Linked DNA regions of Homo sapiens. The protein of the gene in region 1 purifies or fractionates together with the protein of each later gene. This does not show direct contact. Each region holds a gene or a part of one and is shown on either strand. Other genes may lie near its edges. The genes, in order: POP7, POP4, RPP40 and RPP30.

Region 1 (7,067 bases):
TTCTTTTTTTTTTTTTTTTGAGACAGTCTTGCTCTGTCGCCCAGGCTGGAGTACAATAGTGTGATCCTGGCTCACTGCAACCTCTGCCTTCCAAGTTTAAGCGATTTTCAAGTCTCAGCTTCCCGAGTAGATGGGATTAACAGGCGCCCGCCACCACGCCCAGCTAATTTTTGTATTTTTAGTGGAGACGGGGTTTCACCGTGTTGGCCAGGCTGGTCTCAAACTCCCAACTTCAGGTGATCCACCCACCTCAGCTTCCCAAAGTGCTGGGATTACAGGCAAGAGCCACCGCTTGCTTGCTTGCTTGCTTCCTTCCTTCCCTCCCTCCTTCCTTCCTTTTTTCTGTTTTTTCTTTCTCTCTTTCTCTCCTCTCTTCCTTCCTTCCTTCCCTTTTTCTTCCTTTCCTTCCTCTCTCTTTCTTTCTCAGACCCTCACTTTGTCACCCAGGCTGGAGTGCAGTGGTATGATCACAGTTCATTGCAGTGCTGTCCTCCTGGGCTCAAGCAATCCTCCTACCCCAGCCTCCTGAGTAGCTAGGACTGTAGGCACAGACCACCAGGCCTGGCTAATTTTTAAATTTTTTGTAGAGACAGGATCTCACCATGTTGCCCAGGCTGGATTTGCCCATTTTCTAATTGGGTTGTTCGGTTTCTACCTCTCGAGCTTAGAGAGTGCTTTATATATGCTGGAAACAAGTCCTTTGTTGGATATATGATTTGCAAATATTTTCTTCCAGTCTGTGGCTACTCTTTTCATCTTATTAATGTGATCTTTCACACAGCAAATGTTTAAACATTTTGATGAAGTCCAATTTATCATTTTTTTTTTTTGAGACGGAGTTTTACTCTTGGTGCCCAAGCTGGAGTGCAATGGCGCAATCTCAGCTCACTGCAACCTCCGCCTCCCGGATTCAAGCGATTCTCCTGCCTCAGCCTCCTGAGTAGCTGGGATAACAGGCGCATGCCACCACGCCCGGCTAATTTTTTGTATTTTTAGTAGAGACGGGGTTTCACCATGTTGGCCAGGCTGGTCTTGAACTCCTAACCTCAGGTGATCCACCCACCTCAGCTTCCCAAAGTGCTGGGATTACAGGCATAAGCCACCGTGCCCAGCCCAATTGTTTTTCTTTTATGGATTGTGCTTTTGGAGTCATGTCTAAGAACTCTTCGCCTTTAGCTGGGCATGGTGGCATGTGCCTGTAATCCCAGCTACTCAGGAGGCTAAGGCAGGAGAATCTCTTAAACCCGGGAGGCAGAGGTTGAAGTGAGCCGAGATCGCGCCACTGCACTCCAGCTTGGGCGACAGAGTGAGACTCCATCTCAAAAAAACAAACAAACAAAAAAACAAAACTCTTCACCTGACCCTACACCATGAAGTTTTTTCCTAAATCTACTATCCATTTTGTATTAACTTTTTGCATAGGGCTGAGGCTCATTTCTTTGCCTATTTGTCCAATTGTTTCACCACCACTTGAAAGGATCATCCTTTCCCCATTGAAACGCTTTTATACCTTTGTCAAAAACAAGTTGTTTGGCAGTGGCTCACGCCTGTAATCTCAGCACTTTGAGGGAGCTGAGGCAGGAGGATTGCTTGAGTCTAGGAGTTCGAGATCAGCCTGGTCAACGTAGTAAGACCTCGTCTCTACAAAAAATAAAACAAAATTAGCCGGGTATGGTGGCGCGTGCTGATAGTCCCAACTACTTGGGAGGCTGAGGCGGGAAGATGACTTGAGCCCATGAGGTTGAGGCTGCAGTGAGCCAAGATTGTGCCACTGCACTCCAAGCCTGGGTGACAAAGTGAGACACTGTCTTATAAACAAACAAAAAATTATTTTTTAAAGAGAGATAGTTGGCTGCACTTGTGTGAATCTATTTCTGAGCTCTCAATTCCATCTTATTGATTTTTGTGTCTATCCCACTGGGGAAACCATACTTTCTTGATAACTTTATTTATATAGTAAGTCTTAAAATCAGGTAGTGTGATTCCAACAACTTTTTCAAAGTGGTTTTAACTATTCTACTTCTTTTGCCTTTCCATATAAAGTTTAGAATAAACATCTATATTTAATACAAAAAAACTGCTGGGATTTTTGTAGGAATTGCATTACGCCTATAGATCAATTTGGGTTTTTGTTGTTGTTGTTTGAGACGGAGTTCGCTCTGTTGCCTAGGCTGGAATGCAGTGGTGTGATCTTAGCTCACTGCAACCTCTGCCTCCTGGGTTCCACCTATTCTCCTGCCTCAGTCTCCTGAGTAGCTGGGATTAGTACCAGGCACGTGCCACCACACCCGGCTAATTTTGTATTTTTAGCAGAGACGGGGTTTCACCATGTTGGCCAGGCTGGTCTTGAAATCCTGACCTCAAGTGATCTGCCCACCTTGGCCTCCAAAGTGCTGGGATTAAAGGCGTGAGCCACCATGCTTGGCCCCTATAGATTAATTTGAAGAGAATTGGTATCTTTACTATAATATGTTGGATCTTCCAATTCAATCCCAATCTTGTGGTTAATGAAAGAATCTGAAGTAAAGGAAAGAACTATGGGATTGAAATGGGGTGCTGGGAGCAAATTTCTCTAGAATCTGAACTCTCTTCAACCTTTGATCAAATGGGGTCAGACTCCATCCTAGGGAACTGAGAAGGGCCTGGGAGACATAAATATGCCAACTCACCTGTGTAGGTTTACAGTTTACAACATTACCTTGGGTTTCACAACTCAACTGCAAGAAAGGAATTAGCATCCCCATTTTTTTTAAACCAGTGTTTTCATATCCTTTATTCCCAAGTCAGTGTATTTGTCAGTTTGAATGTTACATGTATGATAAAACAGATTATGAAAAGCATACTAACGAGAACATTATTTTATATAACTGATCATTGAATATGCAACCTCTTGCAACAATAACTTAATGGACCCAACTCTACCTTCTAAATGGACCAATTTTATGATTCTCCTAAAATGTTTTGAGTTGGGTATAGTTTCTTGTTGCTTCTTCCTGTGATCCAAAGCTTAAAAATGAGGCTGGGCACAATAGCTCAAGCCTGTCATCCCAGCACTTTAGGAGGCCAAGGTAGGAGGATCACTTGAGATCAGGAGTTTGAGACCAGCCTGGCCAACATGGTGAAACCCCATCTCTACTGAAAATACAAAAATTAGCCGGGCGTGGTGGTGCACACCTGTAATCCCAGCTACTCAGGAGGCTGAGGCAGGAGAATCGCTTTAACCTCAGAGGCAGAGGTTGCGGTAAGCTGAGATCGTGCCTCTGCACTCCAGCCTGGGCAACGGAGCGAGACTCCGTCTCAAAAAAAAAAAAAGGAATGAATCTCTGGAAACTAGCAATTAGAGCCAGACCTCCCTAGGACCAAGGAGACAGGAGTTGGAGAAAAAGACACTACAGGTGATGCCCACAGTCTCAAGCACTGTGGCATATGCTTGACCTCAGAGCATTCCAGTACTCAAGGTCAAGTGTGGCACCATCCGTATATCCTGTCATCGCAAATGCCCGCAACTGCTACAATTAACAGGATATGGGAGAGAGGAGGCACATCATGTGAGGAGGAATGAATCGCTCCCAACAATTATGTGAACATTTCGAAAATTTCTTTTTTTTTTTTTTTGAGATGGAGTCTGGCTCTGTCCCCCAGGCTGGAGTGCAGTGGCGCGATCTTGGCTCTCTGCAAGCTCCGCCTCGTGGGTTCACGCCATTCTCCTGCCTCAGCCTCCCGAGTAGCTGGGACTACAGGCGCCTGCCACCATGCCCGGCTAATTTTTTGTATTTTTAGTAGAGGCGGGGTTTCACCGTGTTAGCCAGGATGGTCTCGATCTCCTGACCTCGTGATCCGCTCGTCTCAGCCTCCCAAAGTGCTGGGATTACAGGCGTGAGCCACCGCGCCCGGCCAACATATCGAAAATTTCAATACCAAGGATTAACTTCTAAAATACAACTTTATATGCTAGTGCATGCCCGTAGTCCAAGCTGTTCAGGTGGCTGGGGCGGGAGAATTGCTTGAGCCCAGGAGTTCAGGGCTGCAGTGAGCCGTGTTAACGCCACTGCACTCCAGCCTGGGTGACAGAGTAAGGCCCTGTCTCAAAAAAATGAAATAAACTGGCCGGGTGCGGTGGCGTGCGCCTGTAATTCCAGCTACTCAAGAGGCTGAGGCACAAGAATCGTTTGAACCCGGTAGGCAGAGGTTGTAGTGAGCTGAGATCACACCACTGCAGTCCAGCCTGGGCCACAGAGACCCTGTCTCAAAAATAAATGCATGCAAGTTTGTAGACAGAAGCTATACAGCTAGCCATTCAATAAAATGCATGTGCAATATGGTGGAGCTGTTGTGAACATCCCCATTTGAATGCTGGGCAAACAGAGTAGTTCAAGGTCCCCAGTGCAGCAGGTCCTACTCATTTCAGAAGGGAACTCTGCAGAAACTATGCCCATCTGGGCAGAGCCCCCACTCCACTGGCCTGAGAGCCACGAATCCGGCGCGCGTCCTCCCCACCTTGCCCGCCAGGGGGCGGCAAGTCCCTGATCCGGGGTCGCCTGCTGCAGAGCTGGTGGGAGATGGTTGAGGGGCGTGGGTGGGTCAGCGTTCCTTGGGGACCCGTGAAGCCTGGGCTTAGGGCTCACAGCGTGGGTCCCCAGCACAGACAGGAGGCGGACAGCTTCCCGTGAACTGCAGGGGAGTCCCGGGACGCTGTCCTCCAGCGAGGTGGGGACCGGCTATGTCCCTCAGTTCCCCCTCGGTCCTCGGGCCACAGGGACATTAGACTAGGGGGTCAGTTCTGCCAGCCCTGCCCAGGCCTCTTCTGACCAGAGGAGCTGCGACGGACGCGGAGTTCAGGCCCCTTGGCGACCGCGGTCTCCTGAACTCGGCCCCTTCCCTGCTCCCATGGGGAAGAACCCTGCCCCTAGAACAGCCTCCCCTCCAGGTGTCTTCCCTACGCTACCCCTCCGCCGGCCGGGAACTCCGCCAGGCCTAGAGACGCCGACCCGGCCCTTTCTAGCTCCTCCCCGGCTCGGACCTGGTTCCCGCCCTCGGCCGCCCGCCAGTTCCCGAGGCGTACACGTGTAGATCCCGTCACGCCCGGAAGTCTCGCGTTTCTCAAACGCCTCGCGCAGTCGCCCTTGCGCTCAGGGAAGGGGCGGGGCGAACGGAAGCCGGGAAGGCGATTCATAGCTCGCGGGGTACGGGCGCGCGTGCGCACTCCGCAGCCCGTTCAGGACCCCGGCGCGGGCAGGGCGCCCACGAGCTGGCTGGCTGCTTGCACCCACATCCTTCTTTCTCTGGGACCTGGGGTCGCGGTTACTTGGGCTGGCCGGCGAACCCTTGAGTGGCCTGGCGGGGAGCGGGCCTCGCGCGCCTGGAGGGCCCTGTGGAACGAAGAGAGTAAGCACGGGAGGGGCGGCGGAGGGGCGCGAGTTTGAGGGCGACGCGATGAATGAATCGGAACGGGGGGTGGGGAGACGCGGGATCTGGAGGTGAGTGGGAGAGGACGAGGGGCCGGAAGGAAACAGGGACATCGAGTGTGTCCCTTCTCGGGTGCACCCTTTATTTTTGTTTTTGTTTTTGTTTGAGACAGAGGCTTGCTCTGTTTCCCAAGCTAGAGTGCAGTGGCGGGCGCGATCACGGCTCACTGTAGCCTCGAACTCCCGATCTCAAGCGATCCTCCCCCCTCGGCCCGGGTAATTAAAAAAATTTTTCTTAAGACAGGGTCTTGCTATGTTGCCCAGGCTGATCTCAAACACCCGGGCTCCAGTGATCCTCCCGCCTCGACCTTCCAAAGTGCTGAGGTTACAGGCGTGAGCCACTGCCCGGCCAGGTGCACCCTTTGTACAGGAAAAGGGGTAGGAAAGGCTTCGAGGTCCCTCTGAGCCCTCTGATCGCGTCCCTTTCCCACGCCAGGGCACACAGCATGGCAGAAAACCGAGAGCCCCGCGGTGCTGTGGAGGCTGAACTGGATCCAGTGGAATACACCCTTAGGAAAAGGCTTCCCAGCCGCCTGCCCCGGAGACCCAATGACATTTATGTCAACATGAAGACGGACTTTAAGGCCCAGCTGGCCCGCTGCCAGAAGCTGCTGGACGGAGGGGCCCGGGGTCAGAACGCGTGCTCTGAGATCTACATTCACGGCTTGGGCCTGGCCATCAACCGCGCCATCAACATCGCGCTGCAGCTGCAGGCGGGCAGCTTCGGGTCCTTGCAGGTGGCTGCCAATACCTCCACCGTGGAGCTTGTTGATGAGCTGGAGCCAGAGACCGACACACGGGAGCCACTGACTCGGATCCGCAACAACTCAGCCATCCACATCCGAGTCTTCAGGGTCACACCCAAGTAATTGAAAAGACACTCCTCCACTTATCCCCTCCGTGATATGGCTCTTCGCATGCTGAGTACTGGACCTCGGACCAGAGCCATGTAAGAAAAGGCCTGTTCCCTGGAAGCCCAAAGGACTCTGCATTGAGGGTGGGGGTAATTGTCTCTTGGTGGGCCCAGTTAGTGGGCCTTCCTGAGTGTGTGTATGCGGTCTGTAACTATTGCCATATAAATAAAAAATCCTGTTGCACTAGTGTCCTGCCATCCCACTGCCACTGATTCTTTCCTGTGTAAATTCTGTGTGTGCCTGAATAGGGATGGTAGGAAACGCTACAGGTATCTAGGTGAAAGGGGAACCCAAGTGTTTCTTGCCTCTATAGAGAGCATAGATTATGCTATGAGCAGTGTAACAAAACAGTACAGTGCAGAAACCCAGTCATCCCAATGTTTGTTTGTTTGTTTGTTTTTTGAGACAGAGTCTCACTCTGTCACCCAGGCTGGAGTGCAGTGGTGCAATCTTGGCTCACTGCAAGCTCCACCTCCTGAGTTCACGCCATTCTCCTGCCTCAGCCTCCTGAGTAGCTGGGACTACAGGTGCCTGCCACCACACCCTGGCTAATTTTTTTGTATTTTTAGTAGAGACAGGGTTTCAGCGTGTTAGCAGGGATGTTCTCGATCTCCTGACCTTGTGATCCACCCATCTCGGCCTCCCAAAGTGCTAGGATTACAGGCGTGAGCCACCGTGCCCAGCCCCA
Region 2 (7,620 bases), on another chromosome or scaffold:
TAATCCCAGCACTTTGGGAGGCCGAGGCGGGTGGATCACTTGAGGTCAGGAGTTCAAGACCAGCCTGGCCAACATAGTGAAACCCTGTCTCTACTAATAGCAAAATTATAGCCGGGCGTGGTGGCAAGCACCTGTAACCCCAGCTACTCAGGAGGCTGAAGCAGAAGAATCCCTTGAACCTGGGAGGCAGAGGCTGCAATGAGCCAAGATCGCACCACTGCACTCCAGCCTCGGCAACAGAGTAAGACTCCATCTCAAAAAAAAAAAAAAAAAAAAAAAAAAAAAAAAAAACTAGAAATAATGTTTTTCTTTAATCCGAAAGTGGAGGAGAGGGGATACACAAAAAAATACTTCTCCACTATATTGTCAGAGGCTATTAGATAAATGGTTTCTGTAAATTTAGTTGTGTTTATTTACAGAAGTCCTAATTTTCGTGGATACCCACTTACTTAATAGTTGAGGCTTAATCTTTTTGAGCTTACATATGAGATTTTTCTTGAATACTCAGAATAGCAGCCTGAATGTCTCAGAGCAACAATCAAAAGGAACCTGTACAAATACAACAAAGTGTGAATTGTAGAATCAAAAAGCATATGGGTGTTCACTGTTTAAATGTTTCCATTATTCTGTATATTTGAAGTTTTTCATAATAAATTGCTGGAGGTCGGAGGGGAGTCACCTGCAATGATTCCATCAAACATTGACTTCTCGTGGAACTTTCACAAAGCCACTACTGGGAAAACACATGTGTATCCATGTTTGAAAGTTTATCATTTATAGCTATAAAAAAGAAAAAAATTAAAGTCTTTTCACCAAATGCAATTTAGAAAAGAGAAACAAAAGGAAAAATCTCCCATAACTTCACTTACCCGGTTATACAAACTTTTAGTATATTCATGTAACTATTGTGTATATATTTGGCTTTATTAGTTTGTAACCTTTTTAAAAATTGTATGTAATTTGTTTAATGGCTGCATGGTAATCCATCATGTTATAGAAATGTGTTAGCAGTGGCAGAGAACCGAGTTACCCCAAGTAACTGGAGACGAATCCGTACGCGTTCGCAGCAACTTCAATCTTTGCCTTGTCAAAAGAAAGAATTTGACTGAGGGGCAAAAAGCAGAAAGAGACCAAGGCAAGTTTCAGAGCAGGAGTGGAAGTTTATTAAAAAGCTTTAGGCCGGGCATGATGGCTCACACCTGTAATCCCAGCACTTTGGGAGGCCGAGGCGGGTGGATCACAAGGTCAGGAATTCGAGACCAGCCTGACCAACATGGTGAAACCCCATCTCTACTAAAAATACAAAAATTAGCTGGGTATGGTGGTGTGTGTCTCTAATCCCAGCTACTTGGGAGGCTGAGGCAGGAGAATCGCTTGAACCTGGGAGGTGGAGGTTGCAGTGAGCCAAGATCGTGCCACTGCACTCCAGCCTAGGAGATAGAGCAAGACTCCGTCTCGGAAAAAAAAAAAAAAAAAAGCAAAGCTTTTGAACAGTAAGGAAAGGAAAGAAAAGGAAAGTATTATACAAGTTGGAAGGACAAGCAGGCAACTTGAGAAACCAAGAGCGCAGCCTGACCCCTTGACTTGGGGTTTTACACGTTGGCCTACTTCCAGGATCTACTTCCAGGATCTTACATTACTTCTCCCCACTCCTGAGATCTTACAGGAAGCTGCTGATCAGTTTCAGGTGTTTTCTATCTGTTAGGCGGCTGCCTGTTCCCTAGCGCCAGCTGTGGCCAATTACTTTAGAGAAACAGTTAACAACCACCTGACCATCACCTGATGGTGGCCCAACACCCCTGGTGTGTGTAGCGGGGAGCCTTCTCCTGCCCTGCTCATACCTGACTACCTACCTACTGTAACAAATGTGCCATACCTAGGAACAGTTTATAAAAACAGATTACTGGGACCCACCTTATAAAAACAGATTATTGAGACCCACTGGATAAAAACGAATCTCCAGGTATGATACCAAGAAATTTGAAATGAAAGCTTACCCTGTGATTGTGATCCTGTATTTGGTCTGTGGATCAAGCAAATTAAGTGTGTGCTAACTAATCAGGTAAATTAATGCATTTAATAATGCATTAATTAGCATACCTAATTACCTAATTAGCACATAGTTAATTTGCTTGATCCACTATGATCAAATATAGCATTGTTTTTAAGTTTTTGCTATTATAAACAAAAATCACAAACATCCTCACAGGTATCTCTCTGCATACAGAAACATTTTCTGAGAATAATCAAGTGGTTTGTTTGCTTTTTATTTTTTTTGTTTGTTTGCTTTTTAAAAAATATTTTAGGCTGGGCGCAGTGGCTCACCCCTGTAATCTCAGCACTTTGGGAGGCCGAGGCGGGTGGATCATGAGATCAGGAGTTCGAGACCAACCTGACCAACATGGTAAAACCCTGTCTCTACTAAAAATACAAAAATTAGCTGGGCGTGGTGGTGTGTGCCTGTAATCTCAGCTACTCAGGAGGCTGAGGCAGGAGAATCACTTCAACCTAGGAGGCAGAGGTTGCAGTGAGCCGAGATCACACCATTGCACTCCAGCCTGGACAACACAGCAAGACTCCGTCTCAAAAAAAAAAATATTTTAATGATGAAGGAACTATGTTGTAATTGCAACTCAAGGACGACCCACCCCACCACCATCAGGGAATTCGAGGGGAGACTGGCAGTTATCCAGGGATCCCAGAAGGAGTCAACTGGGAGTTAAGAGTCCTAACAACCCTAGAAAAAAACTTTCAAAGACACAGGTCTTCTCATTAATCTCCATAATCACAGAGGTCTTGCCTAAAAGGGCCCCCCTTGAGTACACAGCTCTGAAACTGGCTAACATCTTCTGCTGTCTCATTTGATTTTAAAGTTCACATTTGTGAAGGGCTCTATTGTACAACATGGTGACTATAGTTAATAACAGTGAATTTCAGTTAATAACCTGAATTTCACTGAGAGTAGGTCTGAAGTGTTCTCATCACAAAATGAGTGTATTAGCATCGCTCATAGCTCATTTAGCCATTACACAATGTATACACATTTCAAACCATATTGTATACCATAAATACATACAATTCTTATTGGTTAATTTTAAAAATAATAAAAGTTCTCTATCAGTCCCATAAATTACAATTTTCAGGCATCTGCAAAGGCAGCATGTTTTGGTTTAAATGTGGTCTTTCCAAATTTTATACGTATAAAATAAATGCATAAGTGTACTACATATGCAAAAACTAATACATAAATTTTATAAAGTCAATGCACGCGGGGTCACTGGGATGAACCAATTTCAGTGCCTGCAGTCTAATGTTTAAAATCAAAATGGTACAAGGTCACCACCAAAGAAATTGTTTAAGCCAATGTTTCTCAAACTAAAACCTTTGGACATACTCCCAGAATCCCCTGTAAAGAAATGTATACTGTACTCAAAGTTGAGAACCACTGACTTAGCATAAAGGGACCGTATTTCTTTTCTCTCCCACCCAGCACAGGCCCAGTGCTCAGCAGAAATTGGGGCTCCACAGTTCTGCCCAACACTGGGTCACTGCTGAGAAGTCTGCACCAGGCCTTCCTGCACCTTTCCACTGAGCAATGGAGTTTGTTTATTCATTTATTTATTTATATGGAATTTATTTATTTATTTTGGAGACAGGGTCTCACTCTGTCACCCAGGCTGGAGTGCAGTAGCGCAATCCAGGTTCACTGCAGCCCTAAACTCCTTGGGCTCAACTGATCCTCCCACCTCAGATACCCGAGTAGTTGGGACTACAAGCACGCACCACCACGCCTGGATAATTTTTTTTAAATGTTTTGTAGAGATGGGGTCTCCCGATGTTGCCCAGGCTGGTCTCGAACTCCTGGGCTCAAGAGATCCTCCCGCCTGCGCCTCCCACGGTGTGAGCCACCTTTGATCTTATTGCTATGATTTTTTTATTGATAAAAACTAATAAATATTCTGAGTCTCAAGAAAGCTTTCTGAAACTATCAAAGGGACCCAGGCGGCGCATCACTACCTGTGAGGCCGACCCCACTCACAGCACAGACTGCAAGTGAGGCTTACAGATGGGAAGTGCCCTAAGCGAGGTTAAACAGCTAGTTAGCAGCAGACACGGAACTAGAACCTAAGCCTGCTGTCCCAGCTTCGGTGCCCGTGCTCACAGCGGAAGCTGCCTCGGCTCATCCGTAAGGGCGCTGATTAGGGACGACAAAGACCTCACCCCACCGTCCCCGTCCCATTTCCGCCCTCCCAGATCCCCAACCTCCTTCGAGTCCTCTCCAAGTCGCCTCGCCTCGCTCCACTCCAGGCCTTAGCAAGCATTCCACATGCCTTTACCCCAACCCTACTGCCTGTCCCCCAAAAGATGCAGGCGGAAAAGACCCCAGGAAGCGAGCCCACTCCTCCCCACTGCTCAGCAACACCGCCTACGACGTTCTCAGTAGCCGAATCCCTTTCCAGGCGCATGCGCCCCCGAGGTGGGCGAGCGCCGGTGATGTCACGCATAGCGCCATCTCCGAGCTCCGAGAGTCTGCGACAGCAGCTGCCAGTGCGTCATCAGAGAGCGCCGGAAGCGGTCCGAGAATGAAGAGTAAGCGGGGCCGCGAAGTTGGAGAGGGTTGGGGACGTTAAGGGTCGGGGTCTTGGTACTGGTGGGTGAAATGGGTCCGGGCTACCTGTTGCTGCGGAGTCCTAACAGAACCGCTACAGGAATGGGCCCACCCTACCTAAGAAAAACTGAGGGCTGGAGCACGGGTTAGCCTGGCTCGACCTCTGAGCTAGGGAGGGATGTCAGGGCTGGAGGCAGGTTCTCCCGGAGGCTGCTCAGTGGTGTGCGATGCTAGAGGAGGGTTCCAGGCCTTGGCTCAACTTGGCCACTATCTCCCGGGGTGACCGCGGTCAAGATCCTGCTCCTTTCTGCGAGCTGGTTTCACACTCTTAACCTGATGCAAAGCGCCGAGAGCTGCTGGGGAATGATATCACTAACCCAAAGCTTTGGTCCTTAGGGGTAGAAGACATGTGCCAAGGAGGGGCGTGTAGACACCGTTAAGACTGGGCCTTCAATCAGAATTTTTATTTTTCATCTCTGCCACTTTCTACCTATATGATCAAGTAGATTGTCTCGGCATGTCTGAGCTTCAGTTTGCTCATGCACATAAGTGTAATGAGAAAAAATATGTGTACCTTGTAATGAGGTTTCTGGCAAGTAATGGATGTTCAGTAATTGTTAGATGTGTATTGTTGCAGAAAGACTTCCAAGTCTGTTACTAAGCACCTGTAACAGATGAAGCAAAGTTATCAGGCCCCGCAAGTTGCTCTCTACAGTTTATAATCCCCATCTTCCATTTGAGGGAGAACTAGATGCTATATATAAAACTTGCAACCACATTGGTTTGCTTGATCAAACAAACATACCTGGCTGGGTGTGGTGGGACACGCCTGTGGTCCCAGCACTTTGGGAGGCTGAGGCAGGGGGATCACTTGAGGCCAAGAGTTGAAGACCAACTTGGGCAACAACATAGCGAGACCCTGTCTCTACAAAAACTGGAAAAAAAAAAAAAGAATTAGCCAGGTGTGGTGGCACACACCTGTAGTCTCAGCTACTCAGGAGACTGAGGTGGGAGGATCACTTGAAACCAGGAGGTCGAAGTTGCAGTGAGCTATGATTGTGCCACTGCACTCCAGCCAGGGCAACAGAGCAAAACCCAGTATCAAAACAAACAAACAAACAACAAAAAAAAAAAACTTGTAACCACCTTGCATCAAACATTCTCAGGGAAGTACAAGAAAGCTGGAATTAAATTTACAGAGTATAGTGTAAATTACATTTTCTAGCTATTTAGCTCATAAACCAGGCCTTAGTAGTCCCATTCTTATTCCATTCACACCTGTACTCTGTCCCCAGTGCCATGGTTTTCTTCTTTCAAAAAATTAAGAAACAGAAGTGTGGAATTTATTTTAGAGGTTGAAACTTTATTGACCAATGTATATTTTGAGTTTAAAGGAAAAACTTGTATTTTATCAGTTCAGGACACCATCGATTATGTGACACATTATAATTTCATATTAAAATGTGAAGAATCTTTTTAAACATCTTACAGTTAACAAAACCTATTTCTAACCATCTACATCCTAGACAGCTATATCATATAACTTTTAATGAGTTACCTTGTTAGCAAGTGCTCAAGCTTCTAACTTGGGGTATTTTAAACCAATGCAACTCAAAATGTGATTCACTGACCTGCAGTAGTATCTGGGAATATGTTAAACACTCAGGATCTAGGGTAGGAGACCAATAATCTGCATTTTAATAAGATCCCAGAGATTTTTACACACGTTAAATTTTGAGAAGCATTCTTTTTAAACCATGTGCTTGGAACTTCTAGCATAGATGTGGCCAGAGGGTGGGATAAGAGGCATCCAAGAAAGCTTTGCTCTTAATACCAACCTCATCTTCTCCTATCTCTGAATAAGCAGTTGTTCTGCTATAAGTGTAGAAGTGTAGTTATTTTCTTTTCTTTTCTTTTCTTTTTTTTTTTTTTTTTTTTTTGAGACAGAGTCTCACTCTGTCACCCAGGCTGGAGTGCAATGGCACGATCTTGGCGCATTGCAGCCTCTGCCTCCCAGGTTCCAGCGATTCTCCTGCCTCAATCTCCCATGTAGCTGGGAATACAAGTGCAAGCCACCATCCCCGGCTAATTTTTGTATTTTTAGTAGAGACGGGGTTTCACCATGTTGGCCAGGCCGGTCTTGAACTCCTGACCTTGGGTCAGGATCCGCCCGCCTTGGCCTCCCAAAGTGCTAGGACTACAGGTATGAGCCACTGCGCCTAGTGGCGTAGTTATTTTCATAGTTAGAAAAGTCTTGGGTCTTACAGCCATACCCAACAAGAATTGATCATTTCTTTTTTTTAATCCCCCAGGTGTGATCTACCATGCATTGTCTCAGAAAGAGGCGAATGACTCCGATGTCCAGGTCAGTTCTTGGCAGGGAGTCCAGGAGCAACAGAGGTGATGGCAAAGATGGCTCAGTAGCTTCTGAGCCCCCAGCACTGATTGAGATGTCCTTTCCCACATCATACTCCTCATTTTTCTGGCAGACATCTAAGGCTGGATCAAAGTCTGTAGTTCTCATTACCTGTTCCCACGTGCCAGCCTCCTTTTCTGTTGTGCCAAAGTCAAGTTTGGTAAAATGAGGCTTTCCTTAACCTTTTATCATTTCCCACTGTGTTGGGGACACCAGGCTGTGCCCACGTGGTGGGCAGCATCATTCAACCTTGTCACTGTGCCCTCTGCACTTCTGCAGAAGGTGTGCAATCACATATCATAAGTGAAATTTACAGATTATATCTGAATGCCTCGGCCTGCTTTGTCAGTTTTGCAAAAGTTCCTCTTGTGGCTCATAATGAGAGCATTACCTTGAAAGCAAGATTTTGAAAGACCAGTATACCTTTATTTTGCTTCTCCATGAAAGATGAGCCACTCAGGTATTTAAGAGAATCAGATCATTGTCCTATTATAGTCACAATGACGAGAGTGAATTAATTTTTAGTTAGCATCTACAGGTGCAAAGCTGAAGCAGAGTTCCCACCATCATACTGTGAGCTCCCTCGAAGGCTATA
Region 3 (7,300 bases), on another chromosome or scaffold:
AGTAAACTTGCACAAATAGGCTGTTGGTCAGGGAGTGAACTAGCTGGAGCTTGGTCTTCTGCAAGCTTGGTCTTCTGCATGCTTGGTCTTCTGCATGCTTGGTCTTCTGCATGCTTGTTCTTCTGCATGCTTGGTCTTCTGCATGCTTGGTCTTCTGCATGCTTGGTCTTCTGCAAGCTTTGTCTTCTGCATGCTTGGTCTTCTGCATGCTTGGTCTTCTGCATGCTTGGTCTTCTGCATGCTTGGTCTTCTGCATGCTGCAGCTTACCCTTAGCAGATGTTTGGTTTATTGAGTGAGCTGGAGCAGGGGTAGAAACTGACCTTTAATGACCCGGAAGACTGGTTATCTTGTAAAAATAATCCACTAACATCTTGCAGGTGTAATTTCTTGTTTTAAATTTTTCCTCTGTACTTTCTCTTCCAGGTTCTTGCTATGCACTAACATACAATACACATATTGATGAAGATAATACTGTTGCCCTGCTACCAAATGGTAACACTTTATTTTTTCATCTTTCTTTAATTGTTAAAAAAAAATGCATACTGTAAAAAAAAAAAAAAAAAAGTCAGCTGGGCACGGTGGCTCACGCCTGTAATCCCTGCACTTTGGGAGGCCAAAGCAGGTGTATCACCTGAGGTCAGGAGTTCGAGACCAGCCTGGCCAACATGGTGAAACCCTGCCTCTACTAAAAATACAAAAATTAGCCGGCGTGGTGGCTCATGCCTGTAGTCCCAGCTCCTTGGGAGGCTGAGGCAGGAGAATCGCTTTGAACCTGGGAGGCGGAGGTTGCAGTGAGCCAAGATTGCGCCACTGCGCTCCAGCCTGGGAGACAGAATGAGATTGTCTGAAAAAAAAAAAGAAGATATTCAAAAGAATGAGTATACCATGACTTATTTATTTCATCTTTAGTAGAAATTCAGATTATTTTAAATTTCACTATTATAAATAATATCCTTGGATGTATAATGTATAAATAATATCTGTTACAAGACATGTATACACATAAATAATATTCTTGTGATATAAATAAGATCCTTGTATGCAGTTTGTTACATTGATATCTAACTGCTCAATTTGCCTTGCTTTCTTTTAGTCAGACAACGTAAGTTCTAGTTTTGGTATCTTATGGGAGTTATTATTTGATTTATAGGGAAATTAATTTTGTCACTGGATAAAGACACTTATGAAGAAACTGGACTTCAGGGTCATCCATCTCAGTTTTCTGGCAGAAAAATTATGAAATTTAGTAAGTATCATGTGTGTTCCATCTGTTTCTAATCTTCTTGTGGCAATTTAAATTTAAATGTTTGAATTGCCTCTAATCTCTTTGTTCAAAAAAATGTGGCCTTTTAAAAAAAATCTGTCAAACTTCTGACTCGAGCTTCACAGAGGATAGGATGATGCTTTTAAGTTCATTTCTTTTCAGCTGTAGATGCATTTAATAAAGATTGTAGACTTGGACTGGTCAATTAAATATATATGTTTCGGGTTAAACCTTGGCAGGCCAAGGCGGGCGGATCATGAGGTCAAGAGATTGAGACCATTGTGACCAACATGGCGAAACCCCATCTCTGCTAAAAATGCAAAAATTAGCTGGGCGTGGTGGCGCATGCCTGTAGTCCCAGCTACTCAGGAGGCTGAGGCAGGAGAATTGCTTGAACCCGGGAGGGGGAGTTTGCAGTGAGCCAAGATCGCACCACTGCACTTCAGCCTGGCGACAGAGTGAGAGTCCATCTCAAAAAAAAAAAAAAAAAAAAAAAAAATTCCAAGTACTGAACCCAAGATAGGAGTCTACAACTTATTCTTAATAAAGAATTTCCTTTGGTTTCCCCAAGTCTTTATGATTACTAGTAGAAATTCACCCATGAGTGAAGAGATGTTTTGCTGACAGCGTCTGGCTCGAACATCAATAGCTAAGGCCGCCACATCCATAAGTAGATTAAACCTGACCTCTCAAGGTCCTCTGCCCTTGGTCTTTGACCTAGGAAACATATAAATTGAAAATGTCTGTTTTTATTAGCTCTCAAGGTTAGAAGTGCCCACCAAAGGGATCTTATTTATTTGGCAAACCAAAGGGAGTGGAAGAAGAATAAAATAATTTTACTATCCATAAAATTTCCCAAAATTCTAGTTTTTAAAAATGTAACACTTTTTCCATGGTAGAAGCTGTACGTATATGAATGAAATATATGTTCTTTTTTTCATTTTTAAAGTTGTTTCCATTGATTTGATGGAATTATCCTTAAACTTGGATTCTAAGAAGTATGAAAGAATATCTTGGTCTTTCAAAGAAAAGAAGCCATTGAAATTTGATTTTCTTTTGGCTTGGCATAAAACAGGTATGAGGAATAAATTATGTAATGATACAGTGATTTTGAAAGTAATTGTTAATTAAAGAGGAGTAATGGAGGATTGAATGGTGATTCACTCTTTAGTCAAGGAATATTCTATACGTATATATAAAAATATTATTAAGGAAACTAGCCCTTCTGACATCTCTGAAAACCATAGTTCAGGATCATGTAGGCACGCAGGCCTTTCTGCCTGCGTCTCTTTGGGTTATATGTAGATCCAGAGATCTTGAGAGTGGCTTCAGAGCAGCTAAATTTTATCTATTTCTCCCCTTTCCTCTCTCCAGCTTACCTTGAACAGCCTTGACTATAATATTTTTAAGTAGCACCAATTATATACACAATCTGCTTATTTATTATCACAGGGTACTGACTCAGGCCTACCATTAAATGTCAGATGAATTTATTCTAACTTTTAATTGATTAGGACACTAAATTTAGTTCAAAGTTTGCTATTCACCACACAGCGTAATCTGCCTAAAACGGCCATGTATGTTGCTCCTTTTAGAAGTGTATCTTTGACCCAGATAATAATGGATCAAGTCATCAGGAATTATGGTGTAGTACTCTCTTTTGGAGGATAGGAAGCATGGTGGTCTGTTTTAGAAATAGCCCCATCTGTCTGCTCCTCATGGGAAGTGTCTCGTCACTGGGTGCTCCAAGTTGCTCCCATGAGTCCTAGGTCTGGCCTTCGGTGCCTCTCCTTCCATATATGGTAGATAGAAAAGAGGGCAGAAAGGCTTATTGAAGTTTCAGTTGCGTGAAGTCTTCTATGCAGATCATCCAGACGTTGGATTCTGGATAGCTCCCTATTCCTAAAGCTCCTAACTATTTTAAGGATTTGTCAGGACTGTGAAAGTTCTGAGATTTCCTCATACTTGCAGGCTAACTAGGTAGCCTGCTACAGTCTCAGGGATGCTGGCAGAAGACACATAAGCCCTGGGTCAGAGACACAGGACTTAATTCCTCAGAGGAATGGTAGTAGCCAAAATGTATTAGTCAGGGTTCTCCAGAGAGAAAGGACCAATAGGATGGATGGATGGATGGATGGATGGATGAGAGGAGATTTATTAGGGAAATTGATCATGCAGTTATGGAGGCTGAGGAGTCCCACGACAGGCTGTCTGCAAGTGGGAGACCCAGGGATGCTGGTAGCCTGGCTCAGTCCAAATATGAAGGCCTGAGAATCAGGAAAGAAGATGGTATAATTCTCAGTCCAAGGCCAAAGCCTGACAACCTGTGGATCTGCTGGTGCAAGCCCCAGAGTCCAAAGGCTAGAGAACCTGGAGTTCTGCTGTCCAAGGGCAGGGGAAGAAGGGAGTCCCAGCTCCAAGGGACAGCGAATTCACTGTTCCTCTGACGTTTTGTTCTACCTGGGGCCCTAGCCGGGTAGATGGTGCCACCCACAGTGAGGGCAGATCTTCCCACTCAGTTTACCCACTCACCTGCCAGTCTCCTCCAGAAACACCCTCACAGACACACCTAGAAATAATGCTTTACCAGCCATCTAGATGACCCTTCATCCAGTCAGGTTGACACCTAAAATTAACCATCACACCGAATATCACCATTTGCACCAGTTCACCAAGTCCCATTTCCAGAGTGACACCAAGCGATGCTGGCACATGCAGTAGGTTGCATTACAGGAGAGGAACCTGGAGTTTAAGAACTCCAGTCCTTTGTAAGGGACAGTAAGCCTGCTGATATCTGCCCGGAGAGAGGGAGGGTGACATTATTTCTATTATACTGGACAGTAAGCAAGCCTGCCCTTTGCCGTGGAGGGAGTACTATCTCTGTCTTCCAAGGCCGTTGGCTACACAAACATCCCTGAAAAGATACGCTGGATTTTATTGGGTTTTCAAAGTCAAGCTGGGATGAGGTTCAATCACCATTCAGTTTCTCTTCTTTTTCTTTAATAGAGGTTGTGCAGATAAGCTCCTTCTCTCTGGAGTTCACTAATATTATTCATACATCAGGAATGCTTTTGGTTTTAAGTGTGAAGTTGAAATTTTTTTATTAGCACAAACAGTGAAACTAGTTTGGGTCTGATCAGAAACTGTTGTGCTTTTCCAGGAAAAGTGTGAAAAACGATGAACGTTTACAGAACTTGAGCAAAAGGAGCTGAAAGCAGCTTTAAATGATTTTAATTTGAATGCAGCTCTGCACAGCTTCCATCTTACTCAATCTTACCGCTCAGATGGGAATGGGTGGGTTCAGGTATTCACTAAACTTGCTTACGATGGTCAGATGGATTCAAATGGCCTTGTGTGGTGTGTTTTTAAGGTTCAGAAGAATCGACAATGATGTCATATTTTTCCAAGTACCAAATTCAGGAGCATCAGCCAAAAGTAGCACTGAGCACGTTGAGAGATCTCCAGTGCCCAGTGCTGCAGAGCAGCGAGCTGGAGGGAACGCCAGAGGTGTCCTGCCGGGCTCTGGAGCTCTTCGACTGGCTCGGCGCCGTCTTCAGTAATGTCGACCTGTGGGTATCTGAACTCCCTGTGTCTTCCAGGGCTCTGGCCTGCTGCTTGTTTTTAATAGGAGTTTAATACTTTGGAAGTGATCATGTGATGGATATACATGTGTTATCTCTCTCTCTTTTATTTTTTTGGTGACAGAAATAATGAGCCTAATAATTTCATATCAACCTATTGCTGTCCTGAGCCAAGCACAGTGGTGGCAAAAGCTTATTTGTGTACAATCACTGGCTTCATACTTCCAGAGAAGATCTGTCTCCTATTGGAACATCTCTGGTGAGAACTCTTTACCTTTTATATCGCTCATCAGTGCTCTATAGAACAGTATGTCGAATAGTATAGATTTTTTCATTTTGGGAGGTGGTATATAAATAAAATGTACATTGAAAGGAACTCAAATCGCCTATTGCAAAGACCGTACATTGAGTATAATCCTATTTAGTAAGCATATCTTCTCAGTCTTCCCTTTTGAAATGTCAGATTTAAGTCTTGAAGGTTTTCCTTTTTAAGCCCAACATCCTTTTTCACATTTATTGGTTTAGTACTTTGACTTTCTTCGATAGGAAGGCTGGATATGAAAAATCTGGTGAATTATCCTGCAACGTTTCAGTTAACTGAGACTCTGAGAACAGTACTCTTAATAGGAGGGAAAGGATCCTTAAACGCCTGTGGGGTTTTTTGTTTTGGGTTCTTTTTGTCTTAAAGACCTCCCAGAATGAGGGTGGGAACAGCTGAGGTTTGTTTCATGTGTTGTATATTAGTTAATCCTTATGGAGTTCACAGTGTGACATCAGGAACTTATCACACACCTCTTGATTTTCAAAAATTAAAGCTAAGATCTAAGCTTTATTAGAATATCAGAAATACTACTTATCCTGAATAAATTTTTTAAAATGCAGACATTCCTAACTCTCTTTTAAAACTCTGTTTAACAACTACCTTTTTTTCAGTCACTACTTTGATGAACCGAAGTTAGCTCCATGGGTTACACTGTCCGTTCAAGGCTTTGCAGACAGCCCTGTTTCTTGGGAAAAAAATGAACATGGTTTTCGAAAAGGAGGAGAACATTTATATAACTTTGTGATTTTTAATAATCAGGACTATTGGCTTCAGATGGCTGTTGGGGCAAATGATCACTGTCCACCATAAAAAATAAAAATTAAAAATCGTGTTTACTTACATTTACGCTTGCTTTCAGATTTCTTAATGGTAAAAGGTCTGTGTGTCCACTCAGGCTTGTGTGATGGTGACATTTCTCAGATCAGCATTTGCTGGCATCCTGCCCTGCACCTGAGACCCATCTGTGATGGCAGCAAGGCCTGCTGTCCAGTGAATAGCTCATAGTTGATTTCTCTCTGTCAACATAAGCACAGGGTTGTGGGTTACTATGTGGTACACTGGGCCAGGATGTCCAGGGACCGGGGATATTGGTCCCCATCTCACTCCATTGGTTGAGATATATTTTGTTCATTACAACTTTTTCAGATAATAAAAAGAAATCTCATCCTTACCAGGGCCAGTCCCTGTTGTAAGTGCTGTTTATATATTACCATGTTAGAATCTCACACCAACCCTTTGAGGAAACTGAGGCACAGTGTGTAAATACACTACCGAAGTTATAGTGGCAGTGGACCTGAGACTTGATCTCAGGCCAGCCTAGTTCCTAAGTGTGTTCTCACGCTAATGCCTCTGGATCAGAGAGGGATCAATGGATACTGTAAATCGTTACAGAACAGGTTGAAAGAATTTTATTTCCAGCAGTAAGGCTGATAAGGACCAGTTGAAAACAACTAAAACTTTAGAATACATATGAAGAACCATTTTTTTTTTATTATACTTTAAGTTTTAGGGTACATGTGCACAACGTGCAGGTTAGTTACATATGTATACATGTGCCATGTTGGTGTGCTGCATCCATTAACTCATCATTTAACATTAGGTATATCTCCTAATGCTCTCCCTCCCCCCTCCCCCCACCCCACAACAGGCCCCGGTGTGTGATGTTCCCCTTCCTGTGTCCATGTGTTCTCATTGTTCAATTCCCACCTATGAGTGAAAACATGCGGTGTTTGGTTTTTTGTCTGAAGAACCATTTTTTTAATGTAAAAAACAAGAGCTGCAAAATAAGAGTTCTTAAAGGGAAAAAAAAATTTTTTTTTTTGTAAATGGAAGCAGAAACCCAAAGAAGTAAGTGGAGTACTGACGCCACTTTTCCGCCTTAGTGCATCTGCCAAATGCCAAATTGAAGTTTTCTTCTCATAGCCTGGGGTGGGAAGGGGCTGCAGAACAGCACACAAAGCTCAGGGCCTGCCCAAGGGAGGAAAACTAACAGGAGACCTCATAAAGTGAGACTCCAAAAGGATAGATGCAATGTAGGGGTAAACTAGGAATAAATCCATCTGCTTCACCCATCCCCCCAACCCCTGTGAACAGCAAGGAAGATTTCTGTCCTGGGGGAAAACATCTTACTT
Region 4 (7,197 bases), on another chromosome or scaffold:
TTAGAAATAAGAGGGCCATATGACGTGGCAAATCTGTATCCTTTTCTGAGTAAAAAGTTGTTGACATTGTCTTTCAGGAAATTTTGAATTTGAAGTCGTATTATAGTTGAACATGTATTTTTCTCAACCTTTTACTGTAAGTTTACCAATTAATAACTTCAAAAATAAATTATATAACATTATAGAGAGCTTTATGCTTCTGTTTTTTAATTAATCATGAGATAGAAAAGAGGGAATGAGGGACTTCATATGATAAAAGCTTAGAGTTAAATGAGTCTTTTCTCAGATGCATGTTCCAGTTGGACTAAGAACTGCTGTTGAATTAATTAGCCTCTCAAGATGACCAGGTTAGCTGGCACTTTCTGTTATGTTTGTGTTAGTCTCGTGTCCTTGGGTGACTCTGGGTTGAAATCTTTAATGCTCCCCCAAGAGGCTTGCTGTTTGGGCTCTCTGAAAGTGACGCCAAGGCTGCGGTGTCCACCAACTGCCGAGCAGCGCTTCTCCATGGAGGTAAGCAAGTTCTTCCAGTACAAACTGAATGGTCATGTTAAAAGCAAGTCATTTTTACAGCCATACCTATTTTTATTGCCCTACCCTACAGAGTTCCTTTGGGATCATCTTTTCTCAACCTGTTCTAAACACAGTCATCAGTGTTTTCTCACCCTCACTTCAGGCTTTACTTTCTAAAGTTTGTAGAATGAATATAGTTTTCATTACAGAAATAAGTATTGAATAGTTCTTCCAGCTATACATGTGTGCTCCTGCCGACATTTTGATAGGCTTCTAATCTCCCTTCCTTCTTCTCCCTCACCAGAAGGCCATGCTTTCCCTGTTGAAAATCTCTGTTTTAGAGAACGGATATGTTAAAAATATGTGTTAAACTATTTATTAGGAAAACAAAACCAGCAAATACATTTTTAAAAATCCAACTAACAAAACATAGACTGTAACTTTTACATTTATTATAACTCAGAATGTTTCTTTTCTCATGTTTGCTTACATGGTCAAGTTGTGTCCAGACTGTACCTTTTTTATTTTTTTTTCTTTTTCTAAATAGAGACAGAGTCTCACTATGTTGCCCAGGCTGGTCTTGAACTCCTGGGCTCAAGCAATCCTCCTACCTCAGCCTCCCAAAGTGCTAGGATTACAGACATGAGCCACCATGCCCGGCCAGACTGTACATTTTTTACTCACATTTTGTATATGTACCTTTTCACTGACTGAGTTTCCTGCTCATCAGATGTTAAAAATTGAAAGTATGCTGAAACTTTGGAAAATGAAAGTGAAATTTTATTAAAACAATTTAAGCTTTTGATCACTGTTTTGTCTTCGTTATCTTTATAATTCTTAGGACTAGTTGTAGTGGTTAAGAAGCAATTTCATTGATATCACCCAAGTGAATTTTAAACTTCAAAGTAGATTGCTACATATAGACTGAGTTATTTGTCATATGAATAGCTAGGTTATTGAGGGCTTGTGTGTTGGGCTTTATTGATCTGATTTCCACTTGAGAGAACTGCTTATGTATTGGCTTGCCGTAAATTAGATGATTTTGCTTTTAGTTTCAACATTTTTAGTTTGAGATTTTTGTATTATGTAGCCTAGAACTCATCACATAAGCTTTGGGAGTGGTCAAATTAATGGAGATTTTGAATAATGATTTTCTTGAAATTAGGGAACAGTTGGTTCACACTTTGATAGTTCTGTCATTATTTTGATCTATTTTAAATAAACATTCATCAGGATTTTGAGTAACAGTTGGGGTTCCAAAATGGACTAAACAAGAAACAGAAACTAAAATATAAATACATACATAATTTTATATATAGGAAAATAGGAAGTCCTGCATTTGACTTTAAGAACTCAGCTATTCAGCATATAACACATAATATGTAAAGTATTTTTTTTTAGAATTTCTTTTTGTGGGTACATAGTATGTGTATATATTTATGGGGTACTGAGATATTTTGATATAGGCATGCAATGCATAATAATTACATCATGGAAAATGGGGTGTCCATCCCCTCAAGCATATGTCTTGTGTTATAAACAATCCAATTATGCTTTTTTAGTTATTTTTAAATATACAATTAAATTGTATTGACTATGGTCACCCTCTTGTGCTATCATATACTAGACCTTGTTCATTCTATTTTTTTTGTACCCATTAACCATCTTCACCTCCCTCTCAGCCCCCCACTACCCTTCCCAGCCTCTGGTAACCATCCTTCTACTTTCTGTCTCCAGGAGTTCAGTTGCTTTGATTTTTAGATCCCACAAACAAGTGAGAACATGTGATGTTTGTCTTTCTGTGTCTAAAATCAGGCTTTTATAGAAGCTAAACTTAAAGAAGACTTGTGAACTTTGGGTGGCATTACCATTCACCCCAGTGTACCCAGGACAGTTCTAGTTTATGCCTGCTGTTTCTGTGACCTTATTAGCACTTCTATTCCCTGAAGAGAGTCCTAAACTAGATGATAAAATATGGTTACCCTGGTTTTCGTTGCCATTGGGATCAGTATGAGACGGTAGTATGATGTGTTCTTAAGATTGCTAATTCAGCCTAGGTAATATTAGAAGAAATAAAGGATTCTGAGACAAGGAAATTCAAAGCCTCGTTATTATACTCTCATTGATGAAATCTCAGCCGGCATCTGTATCATTCTGAGTGCCACATTTAAGAAGGACAGCAGTGCACTGAAACACTATTGGAAAATGTCTACTCAGTCCTTAAAGGGTCTGGAAGCCTCATGATGAGAGGAATCACGAGGGTGGTGCAGACATGGATACCTGGCAAGCAGAAGAGTTGGGACACATGGTAGTTAGCTTTCAACTTGGAAGGCTTGCCACAGGAAATCAGAATTAGGTTCTTTGGGGGTCCAGAAATCTAGAAACCAATGAATAGCAATTCTGAGGAGGTTGTGGGGAAAGGACAGAGGAAAGAGGCCCAAGGTCAGGGTCTTTGGCCTGTGATTGATAAAGTTCATGCCCTCAATCAGCCCCTGGACCAAAATGAACCTGTTGGGGACACCTGCCTTAGCCCCTTGTGAACAAAATTATTCACTCGTAGATAATCCTTTAGATTTTCCTTGGCAAGATGATTAAAGGAAATACTATATGTGAAAACATTTTATAAACTAAAGCATACACAAATGTAACGTCTTGCTGTTACCAAGAAATGCATTTATTTTTAAAAGACACTAAAGAAATTAATGCATTTTGTTAAAAAGTGCTGATTTTCATAATGTTTATATTTCAGTTGATTTTTAGACTATGGGTACAGAATCAGTGACATAAATTAATAGCTATAAGTGTGACGTTTTTCATTTGGTGAAATGGAAATCATTGACAGTTTTTATTTTGAGGTTCTTATTATGTTGGCATTTTAATGACCTTGAGAGCAGTTTTATCCCTTTTACAAATAAAAGTGTTTTAAAATAATTGGCAGAGTAGATTTACTAAGTTAATCTTGATAAATGGGAAAATAATGCTTAACACTTTATGGTTGACTTTACGTTTATTACTTGAAATAAGGAATAATTCATAGCTAAATTTCTGTTCAAGTTCTTTTGATTCTGCCACCTTTGTAGCTAATGGGTATCTCTCTCTTTCTCCATAATCCCTTTCCATTTCTAAGGACAGAGTTTGGGTCTGTTTTCATGACACTATGGCCTTTCATAAGTTACCCTTCCAAACTCTATTTTCTCCTAATTTTTTTGTATTCCTACTTCACATCAGCCATATTGTCCCCTAAACTATTTTACCTAGGTTCTTCTTATCTTTCTCTCCATGCCTTTGTAAAGGAATATTTCTCTTTTTCTTACTCCGTTTACCCTATTCTGAGTAGTGTCACCTTTATATAATACCTCATTGCTTTAACCAGGCAGTTAATTCTTGTGGATGCCTCCATTCCTATTATATTTGCTCTTATTGTGCTTCTCGCATGCATGTAGTATAGGGAAAAGCACTGTCTGTTAGGAATCTTAATACCCTCTGTATGGACACAGTGCCTAGCCTATTAGTAGGTTTCTAGGAAAAATTGGTTAAATTTAAGTTGAACTCTGCTGCCAGCCTAATCTAAGCATTTAATAATTTCTATTTATTCTTTGTTCATTGTCACCAGTTAAAGAGATCAATAAATTTATGAGTGATTTTATTCATTAACTCAACTAGTATTTACTGAACACATTTTGCATAACCAGGCCATTGTTGAGTGTTGGCAATATAATGCAATTGATTCTTCAGAGGTACCTTGATGTTCTAATAAGAGAGATAGGGTACATGCTGTAAAATGAGGCAAGCATGTGCTCCACATGGGAGCCATACACTTGATTGCTGTGTTTGCTCTCTTGATTTGTCTGTCTACCATATATAAAGTGTCTGCTACATCAATGTCTGTGACTGGGTTCTGGCTACATAAGATGCCATGGACAGACCATTAGAGATAACACTGTCCTGCAGTTTTACCCATGAGGTAATCTTTAGGAATGAATTAGATGTTAATAATATACTGATATTTGTGTCTGTTGGGAAAAAAAGATAATGACGGTAAATGGCACTAGCAGCCATAGCAGTTCATTATGGCTTATCATTTGCTATTGCTGTAAGCCAAAGTAATATGTTAAACCACCTCATTTTAAATTATGTCTTAACTTCAAGCACAGTGGTTTCCCTGTTTGTTTTACAGAAACTAGAAAAACTGCTTTTGGAATTATCTCTACAGTGAAGAAACCTCGGCCATCAGAAGGAGATGAAGATTGTCTTCCAGCTTCCAAGAAAGCCAAGTGTGAGGGCTGAAAAGAATGCCCCAGTCTCTGTCAGCACTCCCTTCTTCCCTTTTATAGTTCATCAGCCACAACAAAAATAAAACCTTTGTGTGATTTACTGTTTTCATTTGGAGCTAGAAATCAATAGTCTATAAAAACAGTTTTACTTGCAATCCATTAAAACAACAAACGAAACCTAGTGAAGCATCTTTTTAAAAGGCTGCCAGCTTAATGAATTTAGATGTACTTTAAGAGAGAAAGACTGGTTATTTCTCCTTTGTGTAAGTGATAAACAACAGCAAATATACTTGAATAAAATGTTTCAGGTATTTTTGTTTCATTTTGTTTTTGAGATAGGGTCTTTGTTGCTCAGGCTGGAGTACAGTGGCATAATCACAGCTCACTGCAACCTCAATCCTGGGCTCAAGTGATCCTCCCGCTTCAGCCTCTCAAGCAGCGGGAACTACAGGTGTGCACTACCACACCTGGCTATTTTTTTTTTTTTTTTTTTTTTCCCTTGTAGAGACATGGTCTCACTATGTTGCTGAGGCTGGTCTCAAACTCCTAGGATCAAGCCATCCTCCCGCTTTGGCCTCCTAAAGTGCTGGGATTACATGAGCCACCACATGCAGCCAGATGTTTGAATATTTTAAGAGCTTCTTTCGAAAGTTTCTTGTTCATACTCAAATAGTAGTTATTTTGAAGATATTCAAACTTATATTGAAGAAGTGACTTTAGTTCCTCTTGTTTTAAGCTTCTTTCATGTATTCAAATCAGCATTTTTTTCTAAGAAATTGCTATAGAATTTGTGGAAGGAGAGAGGATACACATGTAAAATTACATCTGGTCTCTTCCTTCACTGCTTCATGCCTACGTAAGGTCTTTGAAATAGGATTCCTTACTTTTAGTTAGAAACCCCTAAAACGCTAATATTGATTTTCCTGATAGCTGTATTAAAAATAGCAAAGCATCGGACTGAACCAACTTTGGAAATAATTTATTTTTATAATGGGATCATGTTAAGTAGAAGTAGCTTTTTATGCAAATACATGCATTTATGCAATATTAATGTAAGGGCTCTAAAACAATGGAGTAGAGCCAGAGGTATAACTGAATAAGAAATTTTTTTAAGCAAGAGAAAGACAACTGTTCTGCGGGTTGGAGAAAATACAATTTTTTTTTTTTTTTTTGAGACAGTCTCGCTCTGTCCCCCAGGCTGGAGTGCAGTGGCTCGATCTCTGCTCACTGCAAGCTCCGCCTCCTGGGTTCATGCCATTCTCCTGCCTCAGCCTCCTGAGTAGCTGGGACTACAGGCGCTCGCCATGTATTTAGCAGAGACGGGGTTTCACCGTGTTAGCCAGGATGGTCTCAATCTCCTGACCTCATATTCCACCCGCCTCGGCCTCCCAAAGTGCTGGGATTACAGGCGTTAGCCACTGCGCCCGGCCCGAGAAAATACAGTTTTAAAAAGAGAAAGCTTTATAACCTCACCAATGAATACAAATGTTTAAATAAAATATTGATTAAAAAAACATTAAAAGTGCATCATGACCAGGTGAAATTTATTCTTTTTTTCTTCTTCTTTTTGAGACAGGGTCTCACTCTGTCACCCAGGCTGGAGTGCAGTGGCACAATCTCGGCTCACTGCAACCTTTGCCTCTTGGGCTCAAGCCATCCTCCCACCTCAGCCTCCCAAGTAAGTGGGACCAGAAGCATGCACCACCACATCCCAGCTAATTTTTGTATTTTTTTGTAGAGATGGGGTTTTGCCATGTCCAGGCTAGTCTCAAACTCCTGGCAGATTCAAGCAGTCTGTCCGCCTCAGCATCCCAAAGTGCTGGGATTACAGGCACAGGCATGAGCCACCATACCCGGCCTTCCAGTTCTTTTTAATGCAGTATCCTTTATCATATTCATAGGTCAAAAGAGAAAAATCAGAATATTTTTAATAGATGCCAGAAAGACATTTAATAAAGTTAAATCCACTCCTGATTTTTAAAATGACAACAATAAAAACCCATGGCAAAATTAAAGTAGAATAATATTGTATGCATACATATATATGTTCATATGTGTCTGTTTTTTGTGTATATTAAATGTGATGGCTCCAAAAGCATTTTTGACTACCGCTTGGCCAATTTGATGGATTAACCTACTCATTCCTTCTGTAAAACTGAGGCTGGTGCTGCTGAGGCCACACACCAAAAGTCTGCCACTTCCTTGTGTGCCAGTTTGCTTTTTTCCTTCACCCTGCTTAAGTTCACCAAAAGTCAGCTGTGTTTATTCACAAATCTGTTTAAGGCAGCTGTGTTTAGCATTGTATGTAAATTATTTTTTTAAATATGAAAATTGATGAGCTATTGGGGGCAAATGAAAAATTCCCGGGAAAACTAAGTCAACACTTTGGAAAGGTTTGGAAAAGAGTCATTAC

Evidence for each region.
Region 2: the proteins of POP7 (region 1) and POP4 purify together in Homo sapiens (affinity purification with mass spectrometry; 4 studies listed by BioGRID and IntAct, with this or other methods). This does not show direct contact.
Region 3: the proteins of POP7 (region 1) and RPP40 purify together in Homo sapiens (co-immunoprecipitation; 4 studies listed by BioGRID and IntAct, with this or other methods). This does not show direct contact.
Region 4: the proteins of POP7 (region 1) and RPP30 purify together in Homo sapiens (co-immunoprecipitation; 5 studies listed by BioGRID and IntAct, with this or other methods). This does not show direct contact.

Annotation. Positions count from the first base shown.
Region 1 is NC_000007.14:100,700,920-100,707,986, forward strand, and holds POP7 (ribonuclease P protein subunit p20), read left to right. Parts: upstream 1-5,201; 5' UTR 5,202-5,385; intron 5,386-5,901; 5' UTR 5,902-5,911; coding exon 5,912-6,334; 3' UTR 6,335-6,567; downstream 6,568-7,067. UniProt on the Homo sapiens protein: Component of ribonuclease P, a ribonucleoprotein complex that generates mature tRNA molecules by cleaving their 5'-ends. Also a component of the MRP ribonuclease complex, which cleaves pre-rRNA sequences.
Region 2 is NC_000019.10:29,601,736-29,609,355, forward strand, and holds the start of POP4 (ribonuclease P protein subunit p29), read left to right. Parts: upstream 1-4,547; 5' UTR 4,548-4,583; coding exon 4,584-4,590; intron 4,591-6,921; coding exon 6,922-6,974; intron 6,975-7,620. UniProt on the Homo sapiens protein: Component of ribonuclease P, a ribonucleoprotein complex that generates mature tRNA molecules by cleaving their 5'-ends.
Region 3 is NC_000006.12:4,993,756-5,001,055, reverse strand, and holds the end of RPP40 (ribonuclease P protein subunit p40), read left to right. Parts: intron 1-424; coding exon 425-493; intron 494-1,151; coding exon 1,152-1,247; intron 1,248-2,214; coding exon 2,215-2,340; intron 2,341-4,635; coding exon 4,636-4,834; intron 4,835-4,970; coding exon 4,971-5,105; intron 5,106-5,779; coding exon 5,780-5,978; 3' UTR 5,979-6,339; downstream 6,340-7,300. UniProt on the Homo sapiens protein: Component of ribonuclease P, a ribonucleoprotein complex that generates mature tRNA molecules by cleaving their 5'-ends. Also a component of the MRP ribonuclease complex, which cleaves pre-rRNA sequences.
Region 4 is NC_000010.11:90,895,883-90,903,079, forward strand, and holds the end of RPP30 (ribonuclease P protein subunit p30), read left to right. Parts: coding exon 1-35; intron 36-430; coding exon 431-510; intron 511-4,687; coding exon 4,688-4,797; 3' UTR 4,798-6,309; downstream 6,310-7,197. UniProt on the Homo sapiens protein: Component of ribonuclease P, a ribonucleoprotein complex that generates mature tRNA molecules by cleaving their 5'-ends. Also a component of the MRP ribonuclease complex, which cleaves pre-rRNA sequences.